4 linked regions of the Homo sapiens genome follow. Changing the gene in region 3 together with the main gene of any one other region gives a genetic interaction. Each region holds a gene or a part of one and is shown on either strand. Other genes may lie near its edges.

Region 1 (3,865 bases), on a different chromosome or scaffold from region 3:
TGTATTTTTAGTAGAGACGGGGTTTTACCATGTTGGCCAGGCTGGTCTCGAACTCCTGACCTCAAATGATTCACCTGCCTCGGCCTCCCAAAGTGCTGGGATTACAGGCGTGAGCCACCGTGCCCGGCCAGATTAAACAAAGATTTTAAAATAAAACACAAAAGCACAAGCAACAACAAAACACATAAACTGGACATCATCAAAATTTTTAAAAACTGTGTGTCAAAGGACAGTATCAAATAAATGAAACAAACCCCCACAAAATAGGAGAAAATATTTGCAAATCATGTATCTGATAAACATCTAGTATCCAGAATATACAAGGAATTCTTTTAAAAACAAAAAAACAACCCAATTTAAAAAATGGGCAAAGCACCTGAATAGATATGTCTCCAAAGGTATACGCATGGCCAAACAAACAAACAAACAAAAAAAAAAACAAGAAAAGAGGCTCAGCATCATTAGCCATTTGGGGGAAACAGGATCAAAACCACAGTGAGATACTACCTCATGCTCACTAGGGTGGCTAAAACAAACCAACAAAAAACCCTGGAAAATATAAGTGCTGACAAAGATGTAGAGAAACTGTAACCCTGGTATATAGCTGATAGGAATGTAAAATGGTGCAATCGCTGTTGAAAACAGTATGTCAGTTCCTTATTAAGTTAAACACAGAATTACCATATAATCCAGCAATTACCCTGCTAGATATATACATAAAAGAACTGAAAACAGGAATTCAAACAAATACCTGTACACAAATGTTCACAACAGCACTATTTGCAATAGCAAAAAGGTAGAAAGAACCCAAATATCCATCTGTGGATGAACATATAAAACAAAACGTGGTATTATCCATGCAATGGACTATAACTCAGCATTAAAAAGGTATGAAATACTGATACATGGTATACAATGTTAATGAACTTTAAAAACATCAAGTGAATGAAGCCAGAAAGAAAAGGTCATATATTATATGATGCCATTTATAGGAAATAACCAGAAAAGGTAAATCCATAGAGACAGAAAGCAGATTGGTAGTTGCTGGGAGCTAGAGGGAGAAGAAAATGGGGAGTGACTGTTTAATGGGTTTGAGGTCTTCTTCGTGAGTCATGAAAAGGTTTTTGACCTAAAGTTGATGGTTGCACACATGGTAAATGTAATAAATGTCACTGTCCTGTACAATTTAAATTGGTTAATTTTGTGTTATGTGAATTTCACCTCAATAAAGGAAATCTCAATGGTCATGGTTTCTAAAAACAGTTATGCTGCTTTCACTATTAAAAAGCTAAGTTTTGGCCATGCGTGGTGGCTCACGCCTGTAATCTCAGCACTTTGGGAGGCCAAGGAGGGTGGATCACCTGAGGTTGGGAGTTCAAGACCAGCCTGACCAACATGAAGAAACCTTGTCTCTACTAAAAATACAAAATTAGCCGGGCATGGTGGCACATGCTTGTAATCCCAGCTACCTGGGAGGCTGAGGCAGGAGAATCACTTGAACCCAGGAGCCAGAGGTTGCGGTGAGCCGAGATCGTGCCATTGCACTCCAGCCTGGGCAACATAAGTGAAACTCCATCTCAAACAAAAAACAAAACACAAAAAAACAAAAAAGCAAGCTATGCTTTCATTCATATGCAATTCTACAAAAGGTAAAACTAATCTACAGGAATAGAAAGTAGATTAATGGCTGTCTGGGGCCAACATGGGTACTCACTACCAAGAGGCATCAGGAAGCTTTCTGGATAAAGTTTTCTTTCTGGATAAACATTGTCTTACATAAAAATATTCCGTATCTTGACTGTGGTGGTGGATGGCTGCAGTGATACAGATGTATATACATCTGTCAAAACTTATCAAACTTTACCCTTAAAGTAGGTGTATTTTATACGTTGATTTCACCTAAATAAAGCTGGATCTTAAAAGCTACGTATGGCCGACTCAGTGGCTCATGCCTGTAATCCCAGCATTTTGGGAGGCCCAGGCGGGCAGATCATGAGGTCAAGAGATTGAGACCATCCTAGCCGACATGGTGAAACCCCGTCTCTACTAAAAATACAAAAATTAGCTGGGGGTGTCTGCGCACGCCTATAGTTCCAGCTACTCGGGAGGCTGAGGCAGGAGAACTGCTTGAACCTCGGGGAGGAGGTTGCAGTGAGCCAAGATGGCGCCACTGCACTCCAGCCTGACGACAGGGCAAGACTGTCTTGCGGGGGAGAAAAAAAAAGCTAAAGCTAAGTTTTGGCCAGGTGTGGTGGCTCATACCTGTAATACCAGCACTTTGGCAGGCTGAGGCAGGAGGATCGCTTGAGCCCAAGAGTTTGAGAACAGCCTGGGTAACGCAGTGAGACCCCTACTCCACAAAAAAGGGAAAAATCAGCCAGGTGTGGTGGCATGTGCCTGTAGTCCCAGCTAACTCAGAAAGCTAAGGTGGAAGGATCACTTGAGCCCAGGAGGGTAAGGCTGCAGTGAGCTGTGTTCACACCACTGCACTCCAGCCTGGGCAACAGAGCAGTCTTGATTACTCTTTGAAGGCCAGCACTGGCATTCAGTGTTGTTCTTCTTCCCTGATCTGAGCAAAATATGCTTATGAGGCCTAATGCGCAAAGCAACGCAGACGTTATACACTAAAAGCGGTCATAAACAAAAGGCACATCTGTCAAATAGTCCAAATATTAAAATTACAGCTGAACATGGTTGCTTACCAATTCTGGAAGAGGACAAATAGTTCCAGTATTCATATACAATCCTTCTACTACAATGAAACGCCGAGTTACACGAGCCTTGCGAGGATTCTTTAAAAGAGAAAAAGCAGACATCTTACATTTCAGTAACTCTGAAGACAAGATCTGTTACATATTCCCCAGCACTTTCACCTTACAAGATTTATTCCTAAAAAAATATTCTGAATGAATTGAAAGCTCAGTGTTTGTGATGGGTTATTTTGAGATGAACAACAGTACTATCTTCTCTCAGACGTTTTTCAGCTCACAGCATTAGCTAGGTGACCCGCCACACACACAAACTAATTAGGCCCTCTGAGAATATTAAAACACAAACAAAACCCTCCAAACCTCCAACTGGGAAGGGGCCTAAGGGACTTTCTAAAGAAATGGGAATGTTTTACATCATAATGGGGCTGACATTCCTGGGTTACATGGGTATAATCACTGGTCAAAATTGTATGGCTGCATTCATGTGATTCAATGTCTGTCAATTTTACCCAAAACAACTATAATGAAGGTCATCATCATGAAGATGGGGTGAGGAACAGATGGCACAAGAATGATGTAATGCTGATAACAAAGCTGGGAGAAGGGTACAGGGGGCTTCACTATACCACTGTGTTTCCTTCTTATATGTTGGCATTTTTCCATAACAAAAAGTTAAAAAACTCAAACCGTTTTCCTTCACCTCCCAAAAAAAGGGGCAACCCTGTTCCCTCCTCACTCCCCACTGATGTATTATCGGATCAAGTAAAATTTGACTATGAGCTTGTCCAATGATGTTCCCAGGTGGTGGGGTAGAGAGGTCTCCTTTTCTTTTTTTTGAGATGGAGTCTCACTGTCACCCAGGTGGGAGTGCAGTGGCGCCATCTCTGCTCGCTGCAACCTCCGCCTCCAGGGTTCAAGCAATTCTCTGCCTCAGCCTCCCGAGTAGCTGGGATTACAGGCACCCGCCACCACGCTCAGCTGATTTTTGTATTTTTAGTAGAGATGGGGTTTCACCATGTTGGCCAGGCTGGTCTTGAACTCCTGACCTCTTGATTACTGACCTCGGCCTCTCAAACTGCTGGGATTACAGCTTTGAGCCACCACGCCCGGCAGAGATCTTTTCAAAAAACACACACCTTCACACACTCTGCTCA
Region 2 (3,865 bases), on a different chromosome or scaffold from region 3:
TTAAAGTATGTATTAATACCCCACTTGATAGAAGAGGCTCAAGGAGATTAAATAAATTCCCCAAGATCAGGCAACTAACAGGTGAAAGAGCTAAGATTTGAGCCCAAGTCAACTGCTACATTTAAGTGATTTTACTTCCTCCATATTCCTCGAACTCATTCAGAAGCCACAGAGCACAGTCATAAGAGCACTGATTGTGGAATTAAATACAACTATATTTGAATCCCAGTTGTCATTTATTGGTTGTCTCATTTTCCATTTGTAAATCGAAGATATTACCTGTCTTCAGTGGTTGTGGTAAATACTAAAGAAAATACTCATACTCAAAATATAGTAGTTCTTACAAGTTCTTTCTATAAATCCTTTAAATTCATGCTGAATAAAGAGAAACTATATTAAGCCAGAGTATTTGAAAAAATTGGGCGCAGTGGCTCACACCTATAATCCCAGTACTTTGGGAGGCTGAGGCAGGAGTATTGCTCGAGCCCAGGAGTTCAAGACCAGCCTAGGCAACACAGTGAGACCTCATCTTTACTAAAAATCAAAACAATTAGCCAGACAATTAGCCACATGCCTGTGGTCCCAAGAGGTCAAGGCTGCAGTGAGCCAAGATCATGCCACTGCACTCCAGCCTGGGCAACAGGGGGAGACCCTGTCTCAAAAAAAAAAAAAAAAAAAATGTAAATTAAATTAAATTGAAAAATAAAAATAGCCCAAAAAAGTGTGTTGTTTTGTTTTTTTTTGAGGCAGAGTCTTGCTCTGTCGCCCAGGCTAAAGTGTAATGGGATGATCTTGGCTCACTGCAACCTCCATCTCCTGGGCTTAAGCAATTCTCGTGCCTCAGCCTCCCCAGCAGCTGGGATTACAGGTGTGCGCCCGGCTAATTTTTGTATTTTTAATAGAGACGGGGTTTTGCCATGTTGCTCAGGCTGGTCTTGAACTCCTGAGCTCAGGCAATCCACCCACCTTAGCCTCCCCCCAAAAAAAAATGTTTTAAGAGAAAAGAGAAACTATAGTCTGGTTAAAATATTGACTGGACATAGTGGCTCACACCTGTAATCCCAGCACTTTGGGAGGCTGGGGCAGGCAGATCACTTGAGCTCAGGAGTTCAAGACCAGCCTGGGCAACATGGTGAGACCCTGTGTCTACAAAAAATACAAAAATTAGCCAGGCGTCGTGGTGCACGCCTGTATTTCCAGCTACTTGGTAGGCTGAGGCAGCAGAATCACTGCACCAAGGAGGCGGAGGCTGCCATGAGCCAACATTGTGCCACTGCACTTTAGCCTGGACGATGAAAGTGAAACCCTGTCTCCAAAAAAAAAAGTCTTACAAAACATATATGTATGTGTGTGTGTATACATCTATATGTAAGAGCTACAGGCCAGGCACGGTGGCTCATGCCTGTAATCCCAGCACTTCAGGAGGCCGAGGCAGGCAGATCACGAGGTCAGGAGTTCAAGACCAGCCTGACCAACATGGTGAAACCTCGTCTCTACTAAAAATACAAAAATTAGCTGGGCATGATGGCATGCACCTGTAATCCCAGCTACTTAGGAGGCTGAGGCAGGAGAATAGCTTGAAACTGGGAGGCGGAGATTACAGTGAGCCAAGATTGCGCCACTGCACTCCAGCCTGGGTGACAGAGCTTTTTTTTCTCAAAAAAAAGCTACGATATACACAGACACATACACATTTATTCTCTACATACACATTTGCTATATACACACATATATACAGATATTTATATATATGTGTGTCTGTGTATATCCATATATATGTCTGTGTATATATACATTTACTATATACAGACACACACATATATAGGTATGCATAAAATACCTATATATGTGTGTGTCTGTGTATATACACATTTACTATATAGACACACATATATATAAATTTCCATATATGTATCTTCGTATATAGTAAATGTGTAAGTAGAGAGTAAATGTGTGTCTGTGTATATATATGTGTCTGTGTATATATCATAGCTCTTACAACTATTAATATTATTGTCTCATTTTTCTCTTTACCTATCTCTTTTTCCTATGACCCTTTTTCACTAACATAAGTTATTTTTCTACAACGAAATAATTTGCCCAGCTAATTGTATAACCTATTCTCTGGTCACTCTCTCCTCATCCTTTTTGTTCCTATGTTTCATGCAACTCAAATACAATACTTATAATAACCATGCTCTGTGACACCATGTCTGTTGCACAAGTTCCTGCACTCTATAATACCTTCTCCACTTCATTTGCCTAGAAAATTCTGACTCATCCTTCAAATCTTGAATGCAAACATCTTTCCTGAAGTTTTCTCTAATGCATCTTGATCATTTACCTCTCTATTAACTCTGTACCTCACACATACTCCTACATTATAATTATCACCCTCTGTTGTGACCATTTAACTATTAAAATGTGGGCCCTCTAGCTGGGTGCGGTGGCTCACGCCTGTAATCCCAGCACTTTGGGAGGCCGAGGCAAGTGGATCACGAGGTCAGGAGTTCGACACCAGCCTGGCCAGCATGGTGAAACCCCGTCTCTACTAAAAATGCAAAAATTAGCTGGGCATGGTCGCGTGCATCTGTAATCCCAGCTACTCGGAAGGTTGAGGTAGAAGAATTGCTTGAACCCGGGAGGCAGAGGTCACAGTGAGCCAAGATTGCGCCACTGAACTCCAGCCTGGGCGACACAGCGAGGCTCCGTATCAAAAAAATAAAATAAAATAAAATAAAATAAAATGTGGGCCCTCTGAGTATTGGCTATTCATCTTGTATTTTTAGAAGCTAGCACAGTGCCGGGAACATGAGACGTGCTAAATAGGTACCTGCAGAGTTACATTTAAGCCAATCCAACACACCAGGACCACACTCCATCAATTCCCCCTCTCTCATTCCCAATTTTATTCTTGTTCACTGATCGCTTCCCTTTAATCCAGTAATATGCTTCTCTACCCTAAACAGACTCCACCCCTCCCTTGAAGTGCTAGCTCATTTTCCTCTTCAATGTTTAATACAGAATCATTTCTCAATTTGTCATCTTACCTGTTAGAACACATTTTTGCTTTCTCACATCACAAAGCGCATGCTTCTATTTAGCTGTTATCCATATTCTTTCTATTAGAACTGGACATTTAAATGTATTTTCTCAACCATATCAAAAAGGCCTGAAATTCTTCTCTGTACTGGTCAGAAAATGGTAAACTTTTCCCCAAACAAACACCTATTCAAAGGAAAATTTCGTTTTTTTTTTAACCAGTAAAAATGTATTACCTGAATAAGAATTAAGAGACACTGTCCATCGTACTGTTAGTCCTATTAAAACCACTACTGTCATCAAGTACCATTTCTCCATAGTTCTTCAAATTTAGGGAGGGGAAGAAAACACAGCACCAGTGCCAGAGTACTTTTAAAACGTGGTCAATCACTTCTTTTCTTGTTCAGAGAAATGTTATCACTTCTTGAAATGTTATCGATTCTTCGCAATTAGGAGTTTGAGAGAATTTTAATGATGCTTGGTTTCCAAATAGTCAAAACTTGATTATGTCTATGTAGAAGTATCCTAAGGGGAAAAAAAAAGATATCAAGATTCAGCTGAGTACAGTACCTACAACAATGAACCCAGTAAACCAAGTAGAAGGATAGAGAATTCGAGGGGAGGGGTAGTGGGAAGGAATGTGAAGGAAACGTGGTATTTTAAGTTCCTTATTCCCTAGTCCTTTAGTTGGGAATATACATCAAAAGGTGGATCTCCCTATTAAATGGGACTCAATACATCTAAAGATATAGTAAAGATTTACTCTCACAAGGGAATATTTCTGAGAAAAGAAAAACAACACATATGTAGATAATGACACAGT
Region 3 (3,865 bases):
CACACTGCAATCTTTCACCAAAGTCTAGGTCTTGGCTTTATGGTTATAGATGCCATTTCAAAGGGTATACTAGATTATAGGATTCTTTCTGCGTTCTAGACCACTACATATGTATAAGAAATCATTGTGTCGCACATGTTCTCTTTTATTGATTTCACTTACCATTCAATAAATATGTCTTGTTAAGAAAATCAGCCCTTTAATTTTATTTGGAAATACCTCGTACTGCTGCTGGACTGTCATGTTCTGATGTGACTGCCCCTTTGGGGTCAGAGAGTAAAGCCACACTTCTGTAGGTCAGTGGTGGTATCTTTGCTTAAAGGAGTAGACATATCTAATGTCAATCATCTAGGAAAGAAGGAGAATTTTAAAAAGAAATAAAGTTTGGAAAATAGATATTACACCAAAGAAAAAGGTTGTGGCGGGAGGTGGGGAGGCAGTCATTCTTCAGTCTGGGCTAGGACAAAGGACTAGATTGATTGAGGACGGTCTGCAGAGGGAAAACAAGAACGCTCGCTGCCAGATAGATAATGCTTGGGGCCAGGCAAGGGTCAATCCCCAGGAGACTCCATAAATGAGCTGGAAGAGCAGTTATAGCCAGCCAGGAGTTTTTCCCTTTTTATTAATTCTCTTTGGTAAAGATATAGCCTCGCCTCAGGTGTGCAGAGGGAACTTTAACGGAAGAGCCTCAGGCTAGAGAGCTAAAAGAAGAGTAGTATGCTGGTGGCAGTAGTGATTGGTGAAAGATTCCCTGAAAGATGAGTCTTTGTGACAGGCAGCTGGAATACAAGATATAGGTATCTCTTTTGATATGGACATTCACTCTTCTGCCCAACTTAGCTGATCCAGATGCTATTTCATTAAAGTAGCTGGCATCATTTTATTCCTTATTTGAATAAATATCAAGGAGGAGGAAATCTCTTTGTTGAGGAATAGATTAAATGGTACCTTCTCTCTGCTAGGCACTGTGTTAAGATAGGGGGATGAAGGACAGACCCACTTCTTGTGGCTTACATTCTAGTCAGAGGAAAAGGACGTGTGAACAAATAAATGTAAAAATGTGTAACAGATGTTTCAATGAACATAGTTGCCAAAAACAAGGGAGAGATAACAAGGATATAATAATTTAATATGATGCATAGGCCTGAGTCCATGTTCTTCAATCTTAAACTTCTTTAAGAGACTAGTTATCCTATTGGCAAGTAATATCAGGAAAGATTCTCTAGCCTACAGTCTGAATTTTTCATTCCCTTATTATCAATGTGTTCAATACTAACTTTTTTTGCCTGGAGAAAAGAAAACAATATGTGGGGGATTTTACTTGTGGTCTCTAACATTACATTACCTTTCTTAAACTGGGAATTCAAACTCTGGATCTTATTTTCATAAATGGGGTTCAGGTCACCCAAAACCCTCTTGAAGTCAATAAAAATTTTAAAGGATCTGTGACCCATTTTTTAAAAGTCATTTTTTGTTTTTTTCATGTGAGAGGATATAATTAAGAATCACTTTGAGTTTCCTCTAAGACTGTGATGCAATAAGTCACCTTTTAAAAATATTTAGTACATATCCATCGGAGACCTTATCAGCAATGGAGCACTGACTCCATTAATAACAAGAGAGTAAACCTTTTATGTAATGGAAAAGCCATAGTTCTTACAAGCTATACATTCTTTAACCAAGGTAATATCAAAATATATTATGAGTGCATTTCCACTGTAAATACTTTGAATTTTAAAACTCTCTCATTCAAATCTCTGTTTTCTTTAATTTTTAGTATTTCCTCTTGTCTTTGGTGTTCTGCAATTTAAATGATATGTTTAAATGGGGTTTTTTTTCTGTTTTACAATAATATTGGTATACTTCATAAACATGAAAATTCATTATTTCTGGAAAATCCTTACCCATTATCTATTCAAGTCTTGCCTCTCCCACTTCTATATGTTTTCTTTTCCTGGAACTCTTACCTTCTAGCTCCATTACTCTTAACGATGTTCATACAAAATATTTTTTATGTCTCTGCATTTTGGGTATTATCATCAATTATGTTCTAATCTGCATTTAGCCCTTCCATTAATTTTTTTTAAGAATTGTATTTTTTACTTATAGATGTTCTATTTGTCCTTTTCTTTAAAAATGTCATTTTTTTCTTAAGGTTTGATTTATTCTTTTATATTGTCAACATTTATATGTACTTTTAAAGATTCTTTTTCATGTGGTTGTATTATCTCAACTTTTTAAAAAATCCACTAACTACTGCATGTCTTATATCTACTCACTCATGGTCGATTGAGTCCATGGTCCACTGACTCTCACTCTTGGTCGATTGTTTCCTTGTGTGTTTTGTTATTCATTATAGCAAGCATATCTTTAGCAGGACTTGCTTTCTTCTTGAAAAGCCTAGGCAATCTAGATGCTTGATACTAGTCTTTCATAATGATTTTGTGTTTTACTCTTATAGGAACCTCAGGAGTATTTTCCATGTTGACTATTTCTAGGCTAGTTAGGTAGGGTATAAAAACAAAAACCCCAAAAACGATATTCTCAAGGGGAGTGTTCTTTTCTTCTTACTGTTAAAGTTTCCTGTTCTCACTGTATGCTGGTGGGCATATATTTCTAGCCTACATTTTTATTTAATGGCTTTATGCAGGGCACAGGGGTATCTCAGTTCCAGCTCTCTGCCTCATCTGGCACCAAGAGTTTACCTTCTTTCTGTCTCATATGGACATCAGATTCCAGGCTTCTTCGTCACTGGGACGCATAACTCACAGGGCAACCACATCATCACTTCACAATCTATACTCGCTTTTAATGTCTTTGTTCTTAGCACATGGTAGATTACCCTTTTATTTTTCACAAAATTGGGAGATGTTTTAAAATCATTTAAAATCTTTTATCCAGTACTGCCAGGTGTCTGTAACCATAAATTTTTCAGATTGTCTCAGTCAGCTGAATTGCCAGTGCTTTAGTTTACAGTTTACTGTTTCATTATTCATAATCAATCAATTACTCCTTCCCAAGCAGAAAGTTTAGTTGGACTGTGTTTTCAGATCCTGAGATTTTAGAAATGCTTAACTTTTTTAAATGTCTGGGATTCTTCCCCAAGTTCAGCAGTGATGAACTGTAAACATACCTTTAAAGTTCTAAATAAAGGAAATCTGAAATGCCTCCTGGGACCTTGGCAGGACATGGGCCTTTCTTGCTAATCACCATTACAAATTGATCACAATAGAGAATATTAATTGATTTGCTATTGAAAGTTGAATAAAGAGAAAATCTGAGCCATTTTCTTCTGAACACCATTTCAATTTATTACTATTTTAACTATTAAGGCCTTATTTAACTATTAAGGCCTTATTGCACATAATTGCTCACAAATAAGATAATTTACCATAATTTTCAGTTTTACTACTGAAAACTGAAGCCCCATAAATATAAATAAAAACTGAAGCCCCATTACTACTGAAGCCCCATTACTACTGAAGCCCCATAAATATATGTAAAAAATTTTTCTAAATAAGAAAACTATGAAACAGAAATTTTTGGCAAGAGTCATAGAATTTATTCCACAGAAATGACAACTTACAAAGACTTGGGATCTTATAAGGGAAAATCTCAATGATTTGAGAAATGGCAATATTCATATCTAAAATGTACTAGTGATTGCCACTTTCAGAAATGATACACCTCCCACTATGAAATTGTATAAATCACAAGTCAAAAGCATATGGAAGAGTTGATTTCTACTCTACCAGAGGGAGTAATTTTCTTTAGCTCTTTCTCATACATCATAGGTGTGAAGTACTTTTGTTTCTTGGTTAAAATTTTTCTGTTAGTTGATTATTCAACTAGAAAAACTTAAAAT
Region 4 (3,865 bases), on a different chromosome or scaffold from region 3:
CAATCTCAGCTTACTGCCACTTTCACCTCCCAGGTTCAAGTGATTTTTGTGCCCCAGCCACCCAAGTAGCTGGGATTACAGATGCACACCTCCATGCCTGGCTTTTTTTTTTTTTTTTTTTTTTTGTATTTTATTAGGGACGAGGTTTTGCCATGTTGGCCAGGCTGGTCTCCAACTCCTGGCCTCAAGTGATCCATCCGTCTCGGCCTCCCAAAATGCTGGGATTATAGGCATGAGCCACTGCACCTGGCCTCCTCATTCATTTTTGATTTAATTTATTTGTCTTCTTTCTTTTTTCTTAGTTAGTCTAGTTAAAGTTTAGTGATTTCATTTATTTTTTCAAAAAACTAACAGAATTTTGATAATCTTTTGTATTTTTTTCAGTCTCTATTTATTTTTGCTCTGATTTTTATTATTTCTTTTGTTCTGCTAACTGTGGGCTTAGTGTATCTTTTCTTCTATTTCCTTGAGGTACAACATTAAGTCTTGTATTTGAGATCTTTCTTCTTTTTTGATGTAGGCGTTTATTGCCATTTCCTCTTAAAACTGCTTTTGCTGCATCCCATACATTTGGTTATGTTATGTTTCCATTTCATTTTCTAATATACTCTTAAAATTCCCTTTTGATTTCCTCTTTGACACATTGGCTATTCAGGAGCTTGTTACCATTCAAGTTCTTTGTTCATTTCTTAATCACATTGTTGGCTTTTTGTTGTTGTTGTTGAGTTGGAGTTTTTTATATATTTTAGATATTAACCTTTTATCAGATATACAACTAGCAAATGTTTTCCTCTTCCTGTGGGTTGCCCCTTCACTGTTGATCATCATTGGATGCACAAAAGTTTTTAATTTTTACATAGTGCAATTTATCTACTTTTTTTCCTATATTGCTTGTGTTTTGGGGATCACATTCAAGAAATCATTGCCAAATCCAAGGTCAGGAAGAATAGTTCCTATGTTTTCTTCTAAGTTTTAGGGTTTTCACTTTTATGTTAGATTTTGGATCCATTTTGAGTTAATTTTTGTATACGTGTAAGTTAAAGGTCCGAGGTCATTGTTTTGTGATGAGTCAATGTCTAGATTTCCCAAGACCATTTTTAAAAAGATTGTCCTCTCAATTAAATGGTCTTTATACCTTTGCCAAAAATTACTTGATCATATACAGTCATGCACCACATAACAACATTTCTGTCAACAACAGACTGCATATGTGATGGTGGCTCCATGCAATTATGTAACATGCTACACAGGTTTGTAGCCTAGGAGCAAAAGGCTATACCATATAGGCCAGGTGTGTCATAGGATACACCATCTAGGTTTGTGTAAGTACACTCTTCTGATGTTCACACAACACAATTGCCTAATGACCCTTTGCTCAGAACAATGTTGAGCAATACATGGTTGTACGTGCAAGTTCATTTCTGGGCTCTCTGGTCTATATGTCAGGCACCTTTTAAATCAGAAGTTCACTATTTAATGTTTGATCCTGTATCCCAATTTTTTAAGTTTGCTATATTATAACCCCCATTTATAAAAATGTGTGTCTGTGTGTATGTCTGTGTGAGAGAGAATAAGAGAAAGAGAGAAAGAGAGAATAGGCATACCTATGGAAAAATAGTGGAACTAAATGAGACAAAATATTAATGGATGCTATCTTTAGCTGAGAATATCACGTGTGGTCTGTGTATTCTTGTAAAAACTTTCCTTGCCCACATTTTCTGGAATGAACATGTTTAGAAGAGTTTTGCAGGTGTATGTTACTTGGCCTTCCCTGAAATATGAAGGGACAAACAAACACTAAAGGATGTTTGAGAGGTGAGAGCTGCAAGAAAGATGAGGGTTCTGTTTAGCTTGGGTGCCTGGGCTCAAGAGAATGTGAGTGGATCCTGGGAGGGGTGAGGTCTGGAAGCCACTCATGCCCATCCCTGCTTTGTCCCCACAGGTCTCAGCTGAGTCTGCTCTGATCACCCAACAAGACCTAGCTCCCCAGCAGAGAGCGGCCCCACAACAAAAGAGGTCCAGCCCCTCAGAGGGATTGTGTCCACCTGGTATGTTCAAGATGGGTCTCTAATCCTTGCCCCTCCTCCCCTTGTCTCCATGAGCTTCCAGTCTGTTTCCTTTGCACTTCCTTGTTCTTTATTCCACAGAGAGGCATTGGGTGCCTCCAGTTCAAGGCTCTGTCCTTCTGGAGCCTTCCTGCTAGGATGGTATCAAGACACACAAATGAATGAGACAGCCAAAGAAACTGATAGGAACCTTGAGAGAGAATTGAGTGGGACAGAGATGGGGCTGGTGAGGCCTCCAGGCAATGGTGACTTTGGGCTGACATCCGGAGGAGGGCAGGGCCAGAGGTTCAGAGAGCCAGGAAGAGTGCTCCTAGGAGGGTTCCACTGGAACAATTGCCAGGGGGCAAGAGTTGGAGAAGATGGAGCAACAGCAGGGGGCTGCTGTGGGGAGTGGAGGGTTAGGAAGTTAGAGAGACACGTGGGGTCAGATCCCACACAGATGAAGCTGGATTTTATTTCATGAGTGATGGATGTCCCTGAGAAGTTTTCAGCAGAGGGCCACCAGCATCGGATGTACATCTTGAGTGCCCACTCCTGGACTGAACCGGAGCAAGACAGGAAGCAGGTGGAGGGCCTTGAGTGTGAGGCGCTCCCCTGGGATGTTATGTGGTGTCCCGTAAGGTCATTTGAGCCCCCAGAGATGCAGCAGGAACCTGGCCTGAAGTGTGCTTGACTGTTGTGTTCGCCTCGCACTTCTTCCCCCTTTTCCCCCATGTGTATGAGTTAGGAATTGATTGCTGCATGAAGGTTTCCAGGGCAGGCAAGTGTGGCAAGCAGTGGCTTTTAAAATCCATTTACAAAGTTGCATTTCTTTTCCATGACTAAGGGCCACAGGAAAGGCTTGCCTGAGGGCAAACCCTCACATTGCACATGTGGGCTTGCCAGGAGCAGAGCATGGAGAAGGAAGAACCCAGCGTGAAGCAGACACAAACTCATCTGTAAATGCTCCTATTGCTGTGGTCCAGGGTCAAGACCAGGAAGCAGGACGGGAATAGGAAGGACTCAAGACATATTTGGGGTGTGGATGGATGACGTGTGGGGAATGAGGACAATCGAGGCACCAAATTCAACTGCTCAGGGTAACTTGGCCTCTGAGGGGACAGTGTGTGGCAGGGCTAGCAGTACACATTTGGGGACCCTAGCACATAGGTGATGCTTGAAGCCGCTGTCTTGAGTGTGTCCACCTGGAAGAAGTTGTAAATACTGAGGAGGGGCACAACTGAGCCCATGAGGATTTGAAGTTGGAGACGATAGGCCAGGGAGACAGGACTGCAATGGGCTGAGCAGGAGCAGTTGGAGAACTTCCATCCTAGAGGAGAGATGGCCCTTCCAGCCACAGGGAGCAGGCCATAGCAAGTGTCAAGGACTGAGATGTGGAAACTCCTCGAAATGTGCATTTCTCTTCCTGTGAATGAGGTCAAGAATCTGTTCATGACACAGACACTGTTTGTACACTGGTTCTCCTAGGTTTTCTTCACTCCTAGTAAGAGGTTAGGTTTTTTTTTTTTTTTTTTTTAAATCATTGAGTCACATGAATTCTTACAGATTAGGGAAATTATACATTGATTGATTGATTGATTGACTGATTGAGATAGGATTTCACTCTGTTGCCCAGGCTGGAGTGCGGTGGCAGGATCATAGCTCACTGTAGCCTCAACCACTTGGGCTCAAGCGATCCTCTCACCTCGGCCTTCCAAAGTGTTGGGATTACAGGCGTGAGCCACTGCGCTGGGTCCAAAATTCTAATAAAAATTCCCATATAACGCCGGGCGCAGTGACTCACACCTGTAATCCCAGCA

The links. Genes that interact genetically often act in the same process or in processes that back each other up.
Region 1: changes in TRPC6 (region 3) and SPTLC1 together harm fitness less than expected from each alone (positive genetic interaction), as found in Homo sapiens cells (one large-scale study listed by BioGRID).
Region 2: changes in TRPC6 (region 3) and ALG6 together harm fitness less than expected from each alone (positive genetic interaction), as found in Homo sapiens cells (one large-scale study listed by BioGRID).
Region 4: changes in TRPC6 (region 3) and TNFRSF10B together harm fitness less than expected from each alone (positive genetic interaction), as found in Homo sapiens cells (one large-scale study listed by BioGRID).

The regions. Positions count from the first base shown.
Region 1 is NC_000009.12:92,052,703-92,056,567, forward strand, and holds part of SPTLC1 (serine palmitoyltransferase 1), read right to left. Parts: intron 2,793-3,865; coding exon 2,703-2,792; intron 1-2,702. UniProt on the Homo sapiens protein: Component of the serine palmitoyltransferase multisubunit enzyme (SPT) that catalyzes the initial and rate-limiting step in sphingolipid biosynthesis by condensing L-serine and activated acyl-CoA (most commonly palmitoyl-CoA) to form long-chain bases.
Region 2 is NC_000001.11:63,370,473-63,374,337, reverse strand, and holds part of ALG6 (dolichyl pyrophosphate Man9GlcNAc2 alpha-1,3-glucosyltransferase), read right to left. Parts: intron 3,568-3,865; 5' UTR 3,361-3,567; coding exon 3,279-3,360; intron 1-3,278.
Region 3 is NC_000011.10:101,577,143-101,581,007, forward strand, and holds part of TRPC6 (short transient receptor potential channel 6), read right to left. Parts: intron 1-3,865. UniProt on the Homo sapiens protein: Forms a receptor-activated non-selective calcium permeant cation channel. Probably is operated by a phosphatidylinositol second messenger system activated by receptor tyrosine kinases or G-protein coupled receptors.
Region 4 is NC_000008.11:23,041,321-23,045,185, reverse strand, and holds part of TNFRSF10B (tumor necrosis factor receptor superfamily member 10B isoform 1 precursor), read left to right. Parts: intron 1-1,942; coding exon 1,943-2,048; intron 2,049-3,865. UniProt on the Homo sapiens protein: Receptor for the cytotoxic ligand TNFSF10/TRAIL. The adapter molecule FADD recruits caspase-8 to the activated receptor.